Regions from separate parts of the Homo sapiens genome. Here region 2 is linked to region 1. Evidence: fine-mapped expression QTL. A gene starts in region 1. The other region holds a variant in brackets. All regions are shown on one strand. Distances are between the middles of the regions.

The links.
Region 2: its variant is fine-mapped to the expression of CCRL2 in whole blood (TOPMed, PIP above 0.99).

Annotation. Positions count from the first base shown.
Region 1 is chr3:46,402,438-46,412,101 of GRCh38, forward strand. CCRL2 (C-C motif chemokine receptor like 2) reads left to right here and starts at 4,822. Exons shown (of 2, transcript NM_003965.5): 1 at 4,822-5,065; 2 at 5,631-7,086. The coding sequence starts at 5,643. The coding sequence ends at 6,677. CCR5AS (CCR5 antisense RNA) reads right to left here and starts at 4,629. Exons shown (of 4, transcript NR_125406.2): 1 at 4,460-4,629.
Region 2 is chr3:46,203,858-46,211,857 of GRCh38, forward strand. It overlaps CCR1 (C-C motif chemokine receptor 1), which reads right to left and starts at 4,456. Exons shown (of 2, transcript NM_001295.3): 1 at 4,425-4,456; 2 at 1-467. The coding sequence starts at 456. It also overlaps a transcript of CCR3 not described here. The variant GTTC/G (reference allele first, on the strand shown) is at 4,595.

The sequences.
Region 1 (9,664 bases):
TGTTTTCTAAAAGTAGTTTTTCTACATTTCCCATTAAGAAGCAGTGGTATTTAAAACTTATAATGGCTATTATGTGAGATTATCACTATCATAGTTTTTCTCTATACAAATTTTCTGTAACATTTTATTTGCTAATAAAAATTAGATAGATGGATTGACTAATTGATAATCTAAGAAAGATTATATTTGAAGAAGCCATAGTAAGGGACAGATTAAATTATCATCAGTCTAAACATTCTAATACCTATTTCTCTTTTTTTGAAATTTTCCAAATTTGTTATTATGCATTTAAACAATAATTTTTTGAACTTTTATTTTAGGTTCTGGGGTACATGTGAAAGCTTGTTACGTAGGTAACCTTTTGTCATGAGGGTTTGTTGTACAAATTATTTCATCACTCAGCTATCAAGCCCAGTACTCAATAGGTATCTTTTCTGCTCCTCTCCCTCCTCCCGCCCTCCAGTCTCAAGTAGACCCCGGTGTCTGTTGTTCCCTTCTTTGAGTTCATGTGTTCTCATCATTTAGCTCCCACTTATAAGTGAGAATACAAGGTATTTGGTTTTCTGTTCCTGTGTTAGTTTGCTAAGGGTAATAGCCTCCAGCTCCATTCGTGTTTCCACAAAAAAACATGATCTCGTTCTTTTCATGGCTGCATAGTATTCCATGGTGTATATGTACCACACTTTCTTTATCTAATCTGTCATTGATGGGCATTTAGGTTTATTCCATGTCTTTGCTACTGTGAATAGTGCTGCAATGAACATTCACATGCGTGTGTCTTCATGGTAGAATGATTTATATTCCTCTGGGTGTATACCCAGTAATGGGATTTCTGTTTTTAGCTCTTTGATCTAATACCTATTTCTCAAGATCAAGTTAGATCTCTAAAAAAGGCATCATCCTAGCATTTCCCCATCCCTTCCCTGAACTAAATTTAATGTTGTGTGTATCAATCAGCATACAGTCAAGACAGAAACCACACATGAACATTAAATATAATGAGTTATTAACTTATAAAAGGGTATGAACTACTAAAGGGGGTAAGGAGAATGCTGAAGAATGCAGGAATGGCAGATGTAGAGAGCAGCCATAACCTCTAAGCTAAGGCACAGCAGCCAAGGAAGGGGCGAACTCAAAAAATGCCCTCCCTCCCCAGCTGATCCACCCTTGTTGGAGGGGGTGTGGCTGCAACCCAATGGATGCCCAAGAAGTTTGCAGAGTTGTGGCAGGTTGGGGCTGCTGAGCAGGAAACTGCCCGAAGGGGTACCAGTGAGATTCCCAAGAATGTGGGCATGCCTCTGGCGAGGAAGACGCTCTTGGAGTGCCAGCAAAATTTACTAGGAAGCTACCCAGTAGGGTGCCAGCAAAAGTCAGCAGGAAGCCACTGTCGTGGTGTCGGCAAAATTCACTGAGGAGTGGGCACTGCAGGGTCTCCACCCAGCACTGGCAAATCAGCCAAAAGAACAAAAACAAAATAAAAACAAATCCCAGAACCAGAAAGAAAAAACTCTGCCTCTTACTGCGACCCTCTTATGCCTTCTACAGCAACTGGCAAAGGAGAAATGTTTATGGGGTCCAGCTCTAGACTCACAAAGCAGAACACAGAAGAGTGAATGAAGAGCTGAAAGGCGATAAATCAGTAACTGGAGCCTCACATCCTTTGCCTTTTTTATTGAGGGTCAATATATTAAGAAGAATATGTCTGCGTCTTCGGTAAAATTATTGCTAAGGTTATCACCCAGTGTGTGTTTTCAACCTCCCTGATATAAGAACTTAGTGACAAGAAAGAATGAGACAATGATCATGAACTATTGGACCCAACCATTTGTGGCTTTAGTGCCCATCTTCTCAGCAAGGCTTTCTCTCTCTCTCTCTCTCTCTCTCTCTCTCTTTTTTTTTTTTTTTTTTTTTTTTTAAGATGGAGTCTCACTCTGTCACCCAGGCCGGAGTGCAGTGGCACAATCTTGGCTCACGGCAACCTCCACCTCCTGGGTTCGAGTGATTCTCCTGCTTCAGCCTCCCGAGTAGCTGGGATTACGGGCACCCATCGCCACCCCTCCTGGCTAATTTTTGTATTTTTAGTAGAGATGAAGTTTTGCCATGTCGGCCAGGCTGTTCTCAAACTCCTGACCTCAAGTGATCCACCCACCTCAGCCTCCCAAAGTGCTGGGATTACAGGCATGAGCCACCACAGCCAGCTCTCAGCAAGGCTTTTTCTGACTACACTATTTAAAATGTGATCCCTGAGCCACCTTGGCCTCTCTTGCTGTCCTTCCCTGCTTCGCCTTCTCCATAGCACTTCTCTCCTACTAATCTACAATTTACTTGAGCTCTGTGAAGGTCAGGATTTTTGCCTATTTTGTCCATTGGTGCATCCCCAGCACCTGGAACAGAGCTAGGCACAGGCTAGGCACTCTAGAAATACTTGCTGAATAATTGAATTAAGTAAATGAGTGATCTACACGTAGTGGGGAATGAGAGTATACAGTGATAGTTCCTTCGACTAAAACTGGGGTCAAATTATAGTGATAAAGAGGAACTCAGACCTTCAGAGGTAAGCTTTGTGGACCACTTGCCAAGGCTGCAGAATGTGATGTCGTTTCACAAACAAGGAGGCCCTATTATGGCTTCAGATATGAGAATAATAAAGAGAACTTTCCTTTCGCCTCAACTGCAGCCTTCTAAACTCTTCCTTCCTTCCTATGTAGAAGTTTCAAGGACCTCATGGCCTGAGTGTGGATAGGCAGAATGCTGGGAATCAGGCAAAAATAAAATAATACTGAAAGTGAAGGTCATGCTAATATTAGTAAGCCAGGGTGATCCTGAATTTACAAAACATTTTTCTTTGGGAAATTTCACACCTCACATGATTCTGTGTTTTTACTTGGGAAATTTCACATCTCACATGACTCTGTGACATGCGGTACATGAGGTGCCTGACTGCTGTTTTTGTCCTCTACTAATGAGGAAGAGTGTGCGTACTCCCAGCGTTTTGCAAGTTTCAAAGTCTGACTTGACTTTCCTTCCTTTTCCTGGAACTGATCCATGAGTATCGAGAGTAAAGCTGCCCGCACCTACTCATTCAAGATCCTGAGTGTCCTGCCCAGCTGCAGGAGGTGGAGAGACCCAGGAGGAGGGGCCACTGCTGATCCCAGGCTGTAGGGGGTGGGAAGAGTGTCCCAGGGCACCATGACCCCCACTCACTCACTCACAGGAGACCCACACAAGAGAGGAGAGGGCACTTACAGCTTAGGTTCCCACCAGCACCAACTCCTCTGCCATCAAACATCATTGTGTTTCTCTTTCTGCCTTGTCTGTCGGCACACGTGGAGTTAAATTTAATGCTCAATCACATATTTGTCTGGGCTCTTTCTGTGTTTATTTTTCTCTTAATAGTTCTCTCTCCTCCCTTCCTCTCCCCGCCCCTCCTCCTCCTTCTTCTTTTTTTTTTCCAGAGACAGTGTCTCGCTCTGCCACCCAGGCCAGAGTGCAGAGTGGCATGATCATGGCTCACCGCAGCCTCCAACTCCTGGGCTCACGTGAACATCCCACCTTGGCCTCTGGAATGTCTGGGATTACAGGCACTTGCCACTGCATCTGGCTAATTTTTATATTGTTTATAGATCCGGGATCTCACTATGTTGCCCAGGCTGGCCTCAAACTCCTGGGCTCAAGCGACCCTCCCACCTCATACTTCTGAGTAGCTGGGGCTGTAGGAATGCGCCTCAGTGCCAGGCTAGTTTCTTAATTTTCTATTTCTATTTTGACAGGTACAAATTTTGTATTCAATCCTACCTCAGACACATCTTTGGTGGGAAAAGGATGTCATTTAATCAATATATAAATTCTAAGCAAATAGGTCTGATCCCCAAATTAGGTTAGTCACAGCTGCTGAGTCGTTGACCCAAGAGAAGCTCATCTAGATTTTTTCATTATTTTCAAGTTCCTCTTCTCGGTTCGTCCTTCTTCCAGACCGTGCCCTCCCCGTCCCACTCTCTTCCCACAGCCTCCCCTCCCCACAGCCTCCTCCCACCATTCCAAATCTGGGCTGTTCTCTCAATTTCCTTCTCTCTGGACTCAAACCTACCCTAGCCCCCAGCCTCAGTTTGGGGTTAAACTTGTCCTCCTCACATTCTCTCCCACCCAACTTGATGTCGCCTCTGTGTCATCACCACGGGATTTTCCTCCTCTGGGTTCTCCTTTTCCGAGTGGGGTCAGCTCCCCCATGAGTCACAGCACCAATCACTTCTGGCTGCTTGCAAACCCCTTTGCTTTCCTCAGTGTTGACACCCAGGGCAGCCCTATGCTCACTGCCGCTGAGACCCCACCTCTGCCCCTGGCCTTTTCCCAGCTGACATCACCCTGTGGCTTCCATTTTCCTAAAATTCTCTTTTGAGGCCTCAGTCTTAACCAAAGCACACAGTGCCCCTCAAAAATGACAATAAAAACCCAAACACACCGTGACTGTCATGGCAGGTTCCTGGTCCCCGTATTGAATCAGCGGGTGGGTTTCTGCGAACACTGGTGAGAGGCCGCATTAGAGGGTCAGGACCCTCAGGTCTGGACTCGTGGTCACCACATACCTTCCTCCCTGCTGACAGTAGCTGGTACCTGTTACCTACTCAGAGTGTCACATGCCACAAGCCAGAGCGTCTTGGCAGTTCTCAGCACCTTGACATCACTTCCTTGCTACCACTCAGAGCGGCAGTGACACAGTTCCCTTATCTCAGAAGGCCAGAAGACGGCTGTCAAAGGTCACAGGGAAATCAAAGGCGGGGTACAGGGCCAGAGGGAGGAGGAAACAACTTCCCGGTTGCTTTCAGACGCTTCAGAGATCCTCTGGAGGCCTGGGGGAGCTTTTGAGTACTTTATTTCAGTTGGTCCCTGAGCTCGGTGAGTGGGGCGGGTAGAGCCACCAGGGGAATCAACAGTGGTTTCTCGTGCCCCTCAGGGTCAGGAGCAGTCTGATCAAAAGGAGGGCATCCACTGTCCGGGGCCATTCCCACAGCTCCCGGATGCTGGGTCTGGAGGCTGCGCCCTTCCCCTGCAGGAGCTCAGCCCAGTGGTAAGTCATCTGTGTGTCATCTATGTATTTAACCCCTTATGGCCATGTTGATGCTGAGCATGGTTTCACTTTTGCAAACATTTATTTATACCCTTCGAGAGAAAAACGTCTCAGCTGTCACAGGAAGCTGCTTCGGGGGGTGAGCAAACTTTTTAAAATGCAGAAATTATGATCTACACCCGTTTCTTAAAAGTAAGCCATCGTACTTGGTTCTCTTTAATTATATATTTTCTTACATATTGTGTTCATGTAGGCAAGTCCTGTTTCTGCTAAAAGAAGGTAAGTTCTACCAAGGCGGTGTCATGCCAGCTTTATTTCCCGTGGCACCTGGCACACTGCTAAGCACTTACATGCTTAACAACTAGATTGGGAATGGTGCTGCTCTGGGGAAGTGGGCACACGTTAAAGAAATGTTTATTTCAGTCTTCTGAAATAGGGAATTACTCTGGCTAAAATGTAGCTCCAGAAAGGGAAAGTGGGGCTGTATGAATCCAGGTCCAGTTTGTTGTTTCCTCCAGGATAAGGCAGCTGTCGGAGGGGAAAATCATCTCCCATTTCTCCACAGGGCAGTCTGAAGATGGCCAATTACACGCTGGCACCAGAGGATGAATATGATGTCCTCATAGAAGGTGAACTGGAGAGCGATGAGGCAGAGCAATGTGACAAGTATGACGCCCAGGCACTCTCAGCCCAGCTGGTGCCATCACTCTGCTCTGCTGTGTTTGTGATCGGTGTCCTGGACAATCTCCTGGTTGTGCTTATCCTGGTAAAATATAAAGGACTCAAACGCGTGGAAAATATCTATCTTCTAAACTTGGCAGTTTCTAACTTGTGTTTCTTGCTTACCCTGCCCTTCTGGGCTCATGCTGGGGGCGATCCCATGTGTAAAATTCTCATTGGACTGTACTTCGTGGGCCTGTACAGTGAGACATTTTTCAATTGCCTTCTGACTGTGCAAAGGTACCTAGTGTTTTTGCACAAGGGAAACTTTTTCTCAGCCAGGAGGAGGGTGCCCTGTGGCATCATTACAAGTGTCCTGGCATGGGTAACAGCCATTCTGGCCACTTTGCCTGAATTCGTGGTTTATAAACCTCAGATGGAAGACCAGAAATACAAGTGTGCATTTAGCAGAACTCCCTTCCTGCCAGCTGATGAGACATTCTGGAAGCATTTTCTGACTTTAAAAATGAACATTTCGGTTCTTGTCCTCCCCCTATTTATTTTTACATTTCTCTATGTGCAAATGAGAAAAACACTAAGGTTCAGGGAGCAGAGGTATAGCCTTTTCAAGCTTGTTTTTGCCATAATGGTAGTCTTCCTTCTGATGTGGGCGCCCTACAATATTGCATTTTTCCTGTCCACTTTCAAAGAACACTTCTCCCTGAGTGACTGCAAGAGCAGCTACAATCTGGACAAAAGTGTTCACATCACTAAACTCATCGCCACCACCCACTGCTGCATCAACCCTCTCCTGTATGCGTTTCTTGATGGGACATTTAGCAAATACCTCTGCCGCTGTTTCCATCTGCGTAGTAACACCCCACTTCAACCCAGGGGGCAGTCTGCACAAGGCACATCGAGGGAAGAACCTGACCATTCCACCGAAGTGTAAACTAGCATCCACCAAATGCAAGAAGAATAAACATGGATTTTCATCTTTCTGCATTATTTCATGTAAATTTTCTACACATTTGTATACAAAATCGGATACAGGAAGAAAAGGGAGAGGTGAGCTAACATTTGCTAAGCACTGAATTTGTCTCAGGCACCGTGCAAGGCTCTTTACAAACGTGAGCTCCTTCGCCTCCTACCACTTGTCCATAGTGTGGATAGGACTAGTCTCATTTCTCTGAGAAGAAAACTAAGGCGCGGAAATTTGTCTAAGATCACATAACTAGGAAGTGGCAGAACTGATTCTCCAGCCCTGGTAGCATTTGCTCAGAGCCTACGCTTGGTCCAGAACATCAAACTCCAAACCCTGGGGACAAACGACATGAAATAAATGTATTTTAAAACATCTATTTAATGTATTTTAAAATAATTTGTAAGTTGATTTTAAAACCAATTTAACTACATTCCAAATTATAGACAGCCCATTTATATGGGAGTAACTTTTCAGGCTCATTGCCTCGCCGGTGATGAGAAGAACTAGCTAGCTGGAAGCTGTGGGAAAAAGAGGTAAGGTAACTTGTTCTGTCGAAGTTCTCTAAATTCTCTTGCTTACTTGCCACACCCCTAGGCCCCCAGCTTCCCCTAACCCAAGGTTTCTGGTATTTTCTCGTACTTTATCAAGACTATGGAATCTTAGGAGACTTAACAAAAGCAAATGAGAAATTATGTTTAGAAATGTCTAACAAAATGAATGCTTTGTCCTTTTAAGTATAACACATACCTCAGGCCTCACCAGCACATAACTACAAAAGGTTGTCCCACTTCCTTTCTGTGGCTGAGTTAGTAGAACACAGGCTCCCACCTGCCACATCAGCAGAAGGTCACCTCAACATGTGAGCTACCTCCCCGGAGACCCCCCAGATCCGTAAGGATGATGCATCCTTGATCCTAAAAACATTTTCCTGTTCCTGGTGTTCAGAATTGGACTCCACACTCACTGGTCTCTTTATAATCTTGCTTCTGGCCCTTTGAGGCCTCAAAGCTACCAGGGCCTTGCTGCCAGGGGACAATCACCACTCCCGGCTGAGTCCTGCAGACATAGGGCCTGGGCTGGCTGCCTCCTCCTGCTGGCCCAGCATCTTGCTTGCACTAAAGAGAGCTGGAGGCTTGGCACTGATGCTTGCTAAAAACCTACCCAGGCCGCCCACTGCTGCCGCACTGCAGGGCACCAGCCCACACTCCTCCCCTCCTGGCATCAGGCACACGTTCACGGCACTAAACCTTACAGGAAAGCAGTGGAACCCTGTCTTTCCTTCACAGGAGGCACTTTCCTTCCTAGGCAAAAACGATGATACCCATGGGCACAGCATCTCACATAGGGACACATAGAGATGTCTGACTCATTAAAACCCAAGTCTCTGGCCAATTAAAAGGGGTCCTTAATGTCCTACTCAACAGTGGTGGAAGGAAATTTGCTCTATATTGATGAAATGAGGTGGAGAAAATCTGATTTTCCAAACATGAGAATTCTCCATATGCCACCCCATAACCAAAGACCCCTTATTTGTGTTAGATGAAACATTCAAAGAGCCTATTAGGATAGCGGATGAGACCCCCAAGGGACATGCTTATACAACAATAACTGGCTCCAAACCACACTCCATGGCAGTGGCTCTCAAATGCCAGCTCACATCACAAGCCCTGTGCTAAAACACAGAGTTCTGGGCCCCATCCCGGAGTTTGTGGTTCAGGAGGTCTGGAGTGTGACCTCAGAATATGCATTTCTAACAAATTCCCCAGGGGATGCAGATACTGCTGACCCAAGGCCCTCCTTCTGAGAACCACTGTTCCAGGGAGAAGAAACTCAGCTAAGTAAGGGTTTGGCTTTGTGCTGAAGACAATGTGGAATTTAGAGTTGGGGTGAATTATTCAGGAAAGTAGAGAGGTTTGGAGATGTGAGGGTGGGAAGCGCAGTGGAGGGAGGCAGAGAGGAAATATGAAGCAGCGTCAGTTGGAGAGAAATTAGGAAGAGGAATAAAATGATATATGCCAGGGATTTCAGTTTTGCTGAGCCCATGATGACAGACTCTTCTCTGGCACCTTATGCCACTCATTGAGGGCTTGTAGCTGGCTCTGCTCTTTCAGAGTCATAATAGGGCTATGGGTCTGACCTCAAGGTGAGCTGGAATGGGCACAAGTAATAGATAAAACTGCAAGAAGTCACTCAAGGGTCCTTCCTAGAACAAAGGATCCCTACATTCCAAAGGCGAATGCCGGTCACTATCATAAAAGAAAAGAAAGAAAGAAACTGATGGTGACATTTTAAATGGCAATTTTTCTAGCTTCTAAAAGGTTGTGGAGCAACTGGAACTTTCATACCCTGCTGGTGGGAATGTAAAATGGTATAATCACTTTGGAAAAATTGGCAGTGTCACCAAAAGCAAAGCCTATACCTACTATCCATTTCACTCCTCAGTATTTACCCAAGAGAAATGAGCATGTATGTCCATACAAAGATTTGGACCCAAATGTTCATGACAGCCTTATTTATATAGCCTCAAACTAGAAAAAGTCTGTCTATCAACAGGTGAATGGATAAACAAATACTGGCCTGTGTATCTAATGGAATACTGCTCATCCACAAAAAGAAACGAGCTATTGATACACACAGGAGCATGCACGAAATCTCAAAATGCTGAATGAAGGAGGCCAGATTTTAATTTTATTTTTAATTATTTATTTATTTATTTATTTTTGAGACAGAGTCTCGCTCTGTCACCCAGCCTGGAATGCAATGGTGTGATCTTGGCTGACTGCAACCTCTGCCTCCTGAGTTCAAGCAATTCTCATGCCTCAGCCTCCCAAGTAGCTGTGACTACAGTCATGCACAAGAGCAACTGACTAATTTTTGTAATTTTAGTAGAGACGGGGTTTTGCCATGTTGGCCAGCTGCTCTCACACTCCTGACCTCAGGTGATCCACCTGCCT
Region 2 (8,000 bases), 200 kb before region 1:
GATGACACCAAAAGTGACGGTCCGTGCCCGCAAGGCAAACACGGCGTGGACGATGGCCAGGTACCTGTCAATCGTCAGCAGGATGATGAAAAAGATCTCGCTGTACAAGCCTGTGTAATAAAACCCAGAGAGGATCTTACACATGGCATCACCAAAAACCCAGTCATCCTTCAACTTGTAGTCGATCCAGAAGGGAAGCGTGAACAGGAAGAGCAGGTCAGAAATGGCCAGGTTCAGGAGGTAGATGCTGGTCATGTTTTTTAGCCTCTTGTATTGCACAAGGACCAGGACCACCAGGATGTTTCCAACCAGGCCAATGACAAATACCAAGGAGTACAGAGGGGGCAGCAGTTGGGCCCCAAAGGCCCTCTCGTTCACCTTCTGGCACGGAGTTGCATCCCCATAGTCAAACTCTGTGGTCGTGTCATAGTCCTCTGTGGTGTTTGGAGTTTCCATCCCGGCTTCTCCTACAGGTTAAAAAAAAAAAAAAGATTTGTCTTTACTCTGCTACTAAAGGCAGTGGGCACTGGACAGTAAAGACAAGGGAGAGGTAACATTTTTTCAGCCACTCCATAAATGTTTATTGAGTGCCTTCTGTGTACCATGCCCTGGGGACAAAATGGAGTGTTAGAGAGACCCAGATCCTCTCTGCCTTCTAGGAATCTTAGTCTAACAGGGAGTGGAAGCAATAAGTAAATGAGTGCACAAATCATTAATTCAATCATTTCAGCAAAGAGTTTTGTAAGGGATAAGTTCAATGGGTGGAAAGCCAGAGGGAGACCTTACCATACTATTCATAACCAACACTTCCTAAGCACCCCCATGGCCTAGGCACTGGACTTAGGGTTAAAGAGCCCTGGAGGGGTCCCATTGTTGTTCTTATTTAAGAGGTGATGAAACAGAGGTTCAGAGTGGTTAGGAAACATGTTCAAGGACACACCTCTTGTGAGAACAGACCTGGAGCTCCAACCCAGCTGTGCATCATTCTCATGCCCGGCCCTGACACCACTACGCTTTCCTGCTGCTGTCCCCGAGCAGTAGCTTTGCACTGTGGAGCCCACAGGAGGACTCTGAGAAGGAAAATGGTCCTGGCTCAGAGAAAGATACAAACAGATATTCATGGCTTTTGGTCTAAGAAGATTCTCAGCCGAGAGTGACCTAGTACCCTTGGGGCACTTGGAAATGTGTGGGCATTTGTTGTTGTTGTCACCAAAACTGGGGGATGCTACCGTCATTTGGTAGGCAGGGCCAAGGATGTCCTACAGTGCAGAGATCATTCTACCCCAAACACCAGTGGTGTTGCCATAGTGAAATCCTAGTAGGTCAACCCCATTATTTTGGAGATGAGGACACTGAGGGCACCAGAGTGGGCTGAGCCTGACCCACATTGCACAGTCCTTAGGTGGCACAGGTAGATCTAAGGTCACTTTGCAGACCTCCTGAAGGAGAGGAAAGTGCAGGCAGAGAAGGGGGAGGTAACCTGGTCAGAAAAAGAGAAAACTGGGCATCAGGGGAGGAAGAGTTCAGAATGGTCTGGAGCTATGAGGTGATGTTACACAGTGACTAGCTGAATTCTGCTGAGATAAGCTCTTAGATATTTTTACCCACGGATGCCTTAAAGCAAACAAAAATGAAACAAAAAAGAATCACTCTGTAGGTTGCCTTTGTAGGACTTCTCCCAGTCCCTGCTTTTTTGGCACTTGAATCCTTTCCAGTTGCTTATTAAAGATGCCTCCCCAAATGGAGCATTGGCTTTGGTGTAACCTACGAGCTTTGTGACTTTGGATAAATTATTTTACCTCTCTGAGCTTCATTCCTCATCTGTAATGTGGGAAAGCAACTCTTATCTTGCAAGGCTACTGTGAGGTAATGTATGAGAAAAGTGCTACCATCACCCTCCCACCACCACCACCTGGCAACAGCCAGGCCCCTTATTGAGGGCCTGGCAAGAGCCAGGCCAGGGCACTTTTCTTGGGGACCTTCCCTGAGAGAACTCCTTCACTGCAGGAGCCCTTCCCTGAGGCCTGACACCACCAGCACATCCCAGGCACCAATGTCCAGGATGTCCCTGGCTGGCTGGTATACCCTGTCTCCCACCCCCCTGCCAAATTTCTTTGTAGTTAATCTAGAAAGTGATTTTTCTTGATAACGGTGGACAATGATGGTCCCTTCCATGTGAATGACATTTGAAATTGTCAATCTATTGCCGCCAATCTAAATTGATTTGACCCAAATGCCAATCAGTAAAGTAGGTGGCACCTACTTTATAATTTCTATCTTAAACCTGGGTCTCTGGTGTTCTTCCTTCTACTCTCCTTAAGGAATGTTTCCTGCTTACACAATTCACATTTTTTTCAATAGCCATTGTAAAGGAAATTAAGGCACATGGAGGGTATAGGGCACCCTGGCTGGAAAGGGAGATACTCTATTAGGGTGAGAAGTGAGGAGCTTTAATTTTTTATCAAACCCATCCCCTGGCCCACTCCTCCATCTCCAGAGAGATCCAATCAGCCCTCTTTCTGGAGAGAGTCAGGCTAACGGTCACTAACAAAGCTGTGTTGGCAGTTTCTAATTTCTGCAGCCACAGCCATTGCTGATGAGGGCAGACAGTTCGGTTTGATAGTCAGCACTTTTCGGTGGGCTGGCAGGTTAACAGTGGAAGTATGCAAATAGCTTGGAAAGCACAAAGAGCAGCTAGTGCAAGCCTGATCCCATGAGTCCAGTTTCTGGGAAGGTTTGGCAAAGGCAAAGGCAAGTTGAGTCAACATTGTCAGGTGGCATTTTAAACCGAGTCACCTCCATACACCCCCTACCTCCAACCCATTTGTTATTTCCCCAACTTGTTAAGCCCCAGGCAACCACTCCAAGGCATGCTGTTCCTAAAGGGAGGTGATCTGGGGTGGGGCCCGAGAAGAGAAACCAAAGGACCATGTTGTCATCTAATCTGCCAGCCCTGCTGTAGTCTACTGCAGAAGTCTGCCTCAAGGCCACTGCACAGTGGTCAGCTATAGCCCTGGATCCTGGACCCTCCACTGCTAGTGTCCTCCAGCCTGGGAGTTGGTGAAGTCTCTGAGCAGAGATAGAGCAGTCTGTGATGGTGAAAGACACCCAGGCCTATGGTGCGCTGGCTGGCTTATACTGGTTTATAAATGCCAATTGCGTGCATCTCTTCCCCACTCCACATTCAGCATGTTGGTAGCTTGAAACTGACCACAGTGGGGGCATTTATACCATGAAAATCAACAAATGTTATAAAGCAGGGATCTTTTCTTCAGAAGAGTCAGTTGTTGAACATTTACCAGCACATCACTGCCCAGGCCCCACATTCTGAACAGTCCAGCACTGTCCCACTGCTCGGTGCGGGAACTAAAGGATCAGTGAGTGGCACATAGCCTGGTGCCAGGTTGTGCAAACTTTTGGGAGTTTCCATCTCTTCTTTGAAATCTGGGACCCACCAAGACCACCTATGAAGTAGATACCTATACGGAGCCACCATGCCCCTCTATCTTCAGAACAAAATCCTGACCTGTGTCTTTGTTAGTAGAGCAGAACAGATGCCCCCCAAGATCACCTGGCCAGCTCCTTGCCTTTGGGTGAGTGAAAGCCTACCTCTTCCAAAGATAGCAGTGCCAATTTTGAGGATCCTTGGTTCTAGTCTTCTTAAGAGATAGGTTCAGTATCAAATCATCCTTGCATCTGCCAAGATTTTTCTAGCTAATATTTCCCTCTTGCTATAATTTCTTCATACACCATGTTTGGTTTTCCTTTACATGGGGGAATTTGGCAAGCAATTTTTTTTTTTTTTTCAGACAGACTCTTGCTCTGTCGCCAGGCTGGAGTGTAGTGGTGCAATCTCAGCTCACTGCAACCTCCACCTCCCGGATTCGAGTGATTCTCCTGCCTCAGCCTCTTGAGTAGCTGGGACTACAGGCATGCGCCACCATGCCCGGCTAATTTTTATTTTTAGTAGAGACAGGGTTTCACCATATGGCCAGGATTGTCTCCATCTCTTGACCTCATGATCCACCTGCCTCGGTCTCCCAAAGTGCTGGGATTACAGCCGTGAGCCACTGCGCCCCGCCAAGTAATTTCTTATTGAATAGGTTTCCACAGAAAACACCTTTTGTCCCTTAGTACTGACTGACTTTCTTAATCAGTAACCAAAAGCCAATCCTTCAAGTAAGCTTCCTTTTTAGCAAAAAAGCCTATATTTCATCTGAGCACCCAGCTTTATAAATCCACCATTCTCAGTATTGCTACAGTATTAATTGCCTTGGAGATGCATCCATGGGCTACTTAGACATTTGCCCAGCCTACTCAAAGAATTCCCCCTACCTTTGAGGAGCCCCTAGCTGCATGCATGTCTTTGAACAACACTGCCCTCCACAGTAACAGATAAGACAGAAAAGACAAGTGACACTTACTCTGGTTCCAAGGGACTTTGTCCGTGAAGTCTTTGTTTCTGGGGCTTTCTGGGTTTTTATGAATTCAAGTTTCAAGATCCTGACCAAGTAGGAAGTACTCAGCTTCCTGTGTGATGATGGAGAATTGGCTCCAGTTTCACAGTCTTTCAAAATGACAAGAAAGGGACAAA[GTTC/G]TTCTTTTTGTGTGGTTTGGTGCTCATGAATGGCCACAACGCCCACCAGTGGCCACTTCCTGGAAGCCAAGTTAACTGCGAGGATTTTCTCTGCTCACTCTGAGCCTCTTGAGTCTTGGCCCTGGGAGCTCAGCCTTAAGGGAATTGGGGGCAGGTGAAGCTGAGTTGGGTGAGGTGGGTGGCAGTGAGATGTTCCCAGAATGTTTGGAGCAATTGAAGTGTGGGATGTGTGTATGTGGGATGGGGGCAGGGCATAGAGCTCTTGTGGTCAGCGGCAGACTTCTTTTTTTTCTTCTTCTTAAAGATTGTGAATGGAAGGATTTAAACTGGAACCCTGAGTCCTGTTCCTCAAAACTAACTGACATGGGTGCTCACAGAGGCAGCAGCTTCTCTTTGGCACCCTATGCCCCTCGGCTTCTGGGAGCTCATTGTCCCTCTGCTCTCTGCTCCCCAAGTCCCTCCCCACCAAACCTCAGAGAGTGGCTTTGCCCCAGGAACCTCCAGCATGAAGGGAATATAGGTCTGTTGGTTACATTTTGACCTTCCCTTTCTGATGCCCCATTCCTGTTTTACGTGATGGTCAAACATGGGCCAAGTTCAAATCCCAGCTCTCCACCTGTGACATGGGCAGATCACTCACCTTTCTAAGTCTTGGTTCCTACTCTGCTAAATGGGAGTATTGAATGCTTACCTCAGAGGAGAAGCACGAAGTCAACTTGTACATGAAAAATGTCAGAGTGCCTGGCACAGTGAAAAATGTCTGACAAATGATGAGTACTGTGACTCTCCTCACAACTGCCAACACCTACTCTGCCTCTGCCCTTGTGTCTTCTATAAAGTGGGGACACCCCTAACCTTCCTCACGGCATTGCTACAAAGCACTGTTTCAGAAATCATCAGTGTGAATGTGCTTTGAAAAGATCACTTGTCTCTTCATGGTTCAGTTTTCTTATCTGTAAAATGAAGAATTCAGACAAGATGGCCTAAGCTTGACATCTGATCATCACTCAGCTTCACCCCAAAGAAATAAATGGGGGTCTGCATGTGCCTGGCTATTTGCAGTACTTTGCTGGTGGATCAGTTTCCAAAGAGAACAGAGGCTTGTGAGGCCTGCCTTTTCCTTGATCCTGTCTAAAGTAAGGGACATGGTCAGTACCTCATCCTTGACCAGGCTTCCAGCTCTGCTCTAGGTTTCATTCCACAGAGGGGATGTACCAGGCAAATCTGCTTGTTCATTGAACAAATATTTATTCAGTACTCACAATGTGCCGGACATTGTGTTAGGTGCTTGGGATATAGTGGTGAAGAAAGAGGCTGGATCCATTCTTTGAGAGCTTATAGCTTAGGAAGGATCACAAACAATTAACCAAGTTACCACAATGAGGAACAGCTTTTGTAGTGGCCTGGGAAATACCCTGGGCTAAGGAAGGGTGCATCGAGGGTGGGAAGGGGTGAGGAAGTCCTTTAGAGCAGTGGTTCTCAAAGTGAGGTCCCTGGACCAGCAGCATTCACATTCCCTGGGACATTGCTAGCCATGCAAGTTCTGGGGTTACATGCCAGATATACTGACTCAGAAATCCTGGGGATGCGGCCAAGCAATCCAGGTTTTGACAAAGACTGGCATGATTCTGATGCATGCTTAAATTTGGGGGGCATGGATCTAGATTTTCTCAATGCTTTTGGCTCAGAGTCCCATGTGATCTTTCTTCAGAAGAGTTAGGCTGGACCAGCTATGAGCTAGGAAGCCTTCTTTCTCTCTTTAGCTCAAGGCCTAAACAAGAGGCTGCTCAGTTGCCTGCTCTGTCTCCCCTCCCACACCCACACTCAGGTCTCCTATGGCCTTGCAAACCCCTTAGTGCACACACCCCTCTCACCACAGCAGATGTGTACAATGGGGGCAGCACAGAGAGACAAGAGAGAAACCAGCAAAGAGGGATGACCTTGCTCCATTCATTTCTCTTAAAAGCCCTTTGACTCCTCTCCTTAAAAGCTGTAGTGTTCTCTCAAGGTTGCCGTATTGTCCTTGATCCACATCAATGTTCCTCTTCCTTGGAGAGAAGGGGGAGATGTGGGCAGCTTCCTTTGCCCCAGAGAGGTTGCAGTGGAAGCCCAGCACTAAGCCAAACCCTGTCCTGAGACAGCCTTCCACCCCAGCCTTGGCACCAATGTTCAGGGAAGAGATGCAGGGGACCCTGCCAGTGGTGGATGTGGATGACTCTGTCTTTAACACCTGCAGAGCTCATGGACCCTGGCCGTCATCAGGTTCAACCTCATATTCAACTGCTGGGCCTTGTCTTCTGGCCACACACTCTCTCCAAATCAGCGATGGTGGGGAACTGAGGAGCCAGAGGCCATTGTGGAAGAACTCCAAGAAAACAATCTCCAGGTTATCACATCTAAAGCCTGAGCAAGATTTGAGGCTGGGAAGAGGTGGATCCCAGAATTGGAAGAAGGTAGGTGAAACCAGTGTTGCCTCCGCTATGTTAGAGTCACATGGAAGCTTGAAGGACAATTGACTCCTAGGCCCACCCCCAGATATTCTGATGTACTTGGTCTAGGGTGCAGCCTGGGCATTGGAATTTTAATATGTTAAAAAATCTGAGAACTAGAATCCCTGGCCTAAAGCAATGGTTCTCGAATTTGAATATCCATCAGAATCTACAGAGGGCTTGTTAAAACAGATTTCTGGACTTATCTCCAGAGATTAAGTTCAGTAGGTCTGGAATGGGGCCTGAGAATTTACTTTTTTTTTTTTTTTTTTTTAGACAAGGTCTTGCTCTGTCGCCCAGGCTGGGGTGCAGTAGCATGATCATGGCTCACTGCAGCCTCAACCTTCTGGGCTCAAGTGATCCTCCCACTTCAGTCTCCTAAGTAGCTGGAACCACAGGTGCATGGCACCACACCTGGCTAATTTGAAAAAATATGTATATATATATATATATATTTTTTGTAGAAATGGGTGTGTTATCATGTTGCCTAGGTTGGTCTCAAACTCATGGGCTCTAGTGACCCTCTTGCCCCAGCCTCCCAAAGTGCTGGGATTACAGGTGTGACCTGTGATCCCACCATGCCTGACCTAGATTTGCATTTCTAATAAGTTTCGAGAACCACTGGTCTACAGGAATTCTCTGAGATGTAATTTGTTTATATTTGTAAGTACACAAAATATAAGGTGAAGAGCTAAGTTTGCCTACCCCTGGCGCCTTATTTTCCCCATTTCTCTTCCCAAAAGGAACAACAGTATCAGATTCTCATGTCACTTTGAACATAGAACACACGCACACACACACTTTTTTTTACACTGGTGAGTGAATACAATACACGTTGTCTTCCATTGCTTTTGTCACTGAACCTCATACCCAGAAGATTCTTCTCCACCAGCAAGCACCTGGGAATAAGCATG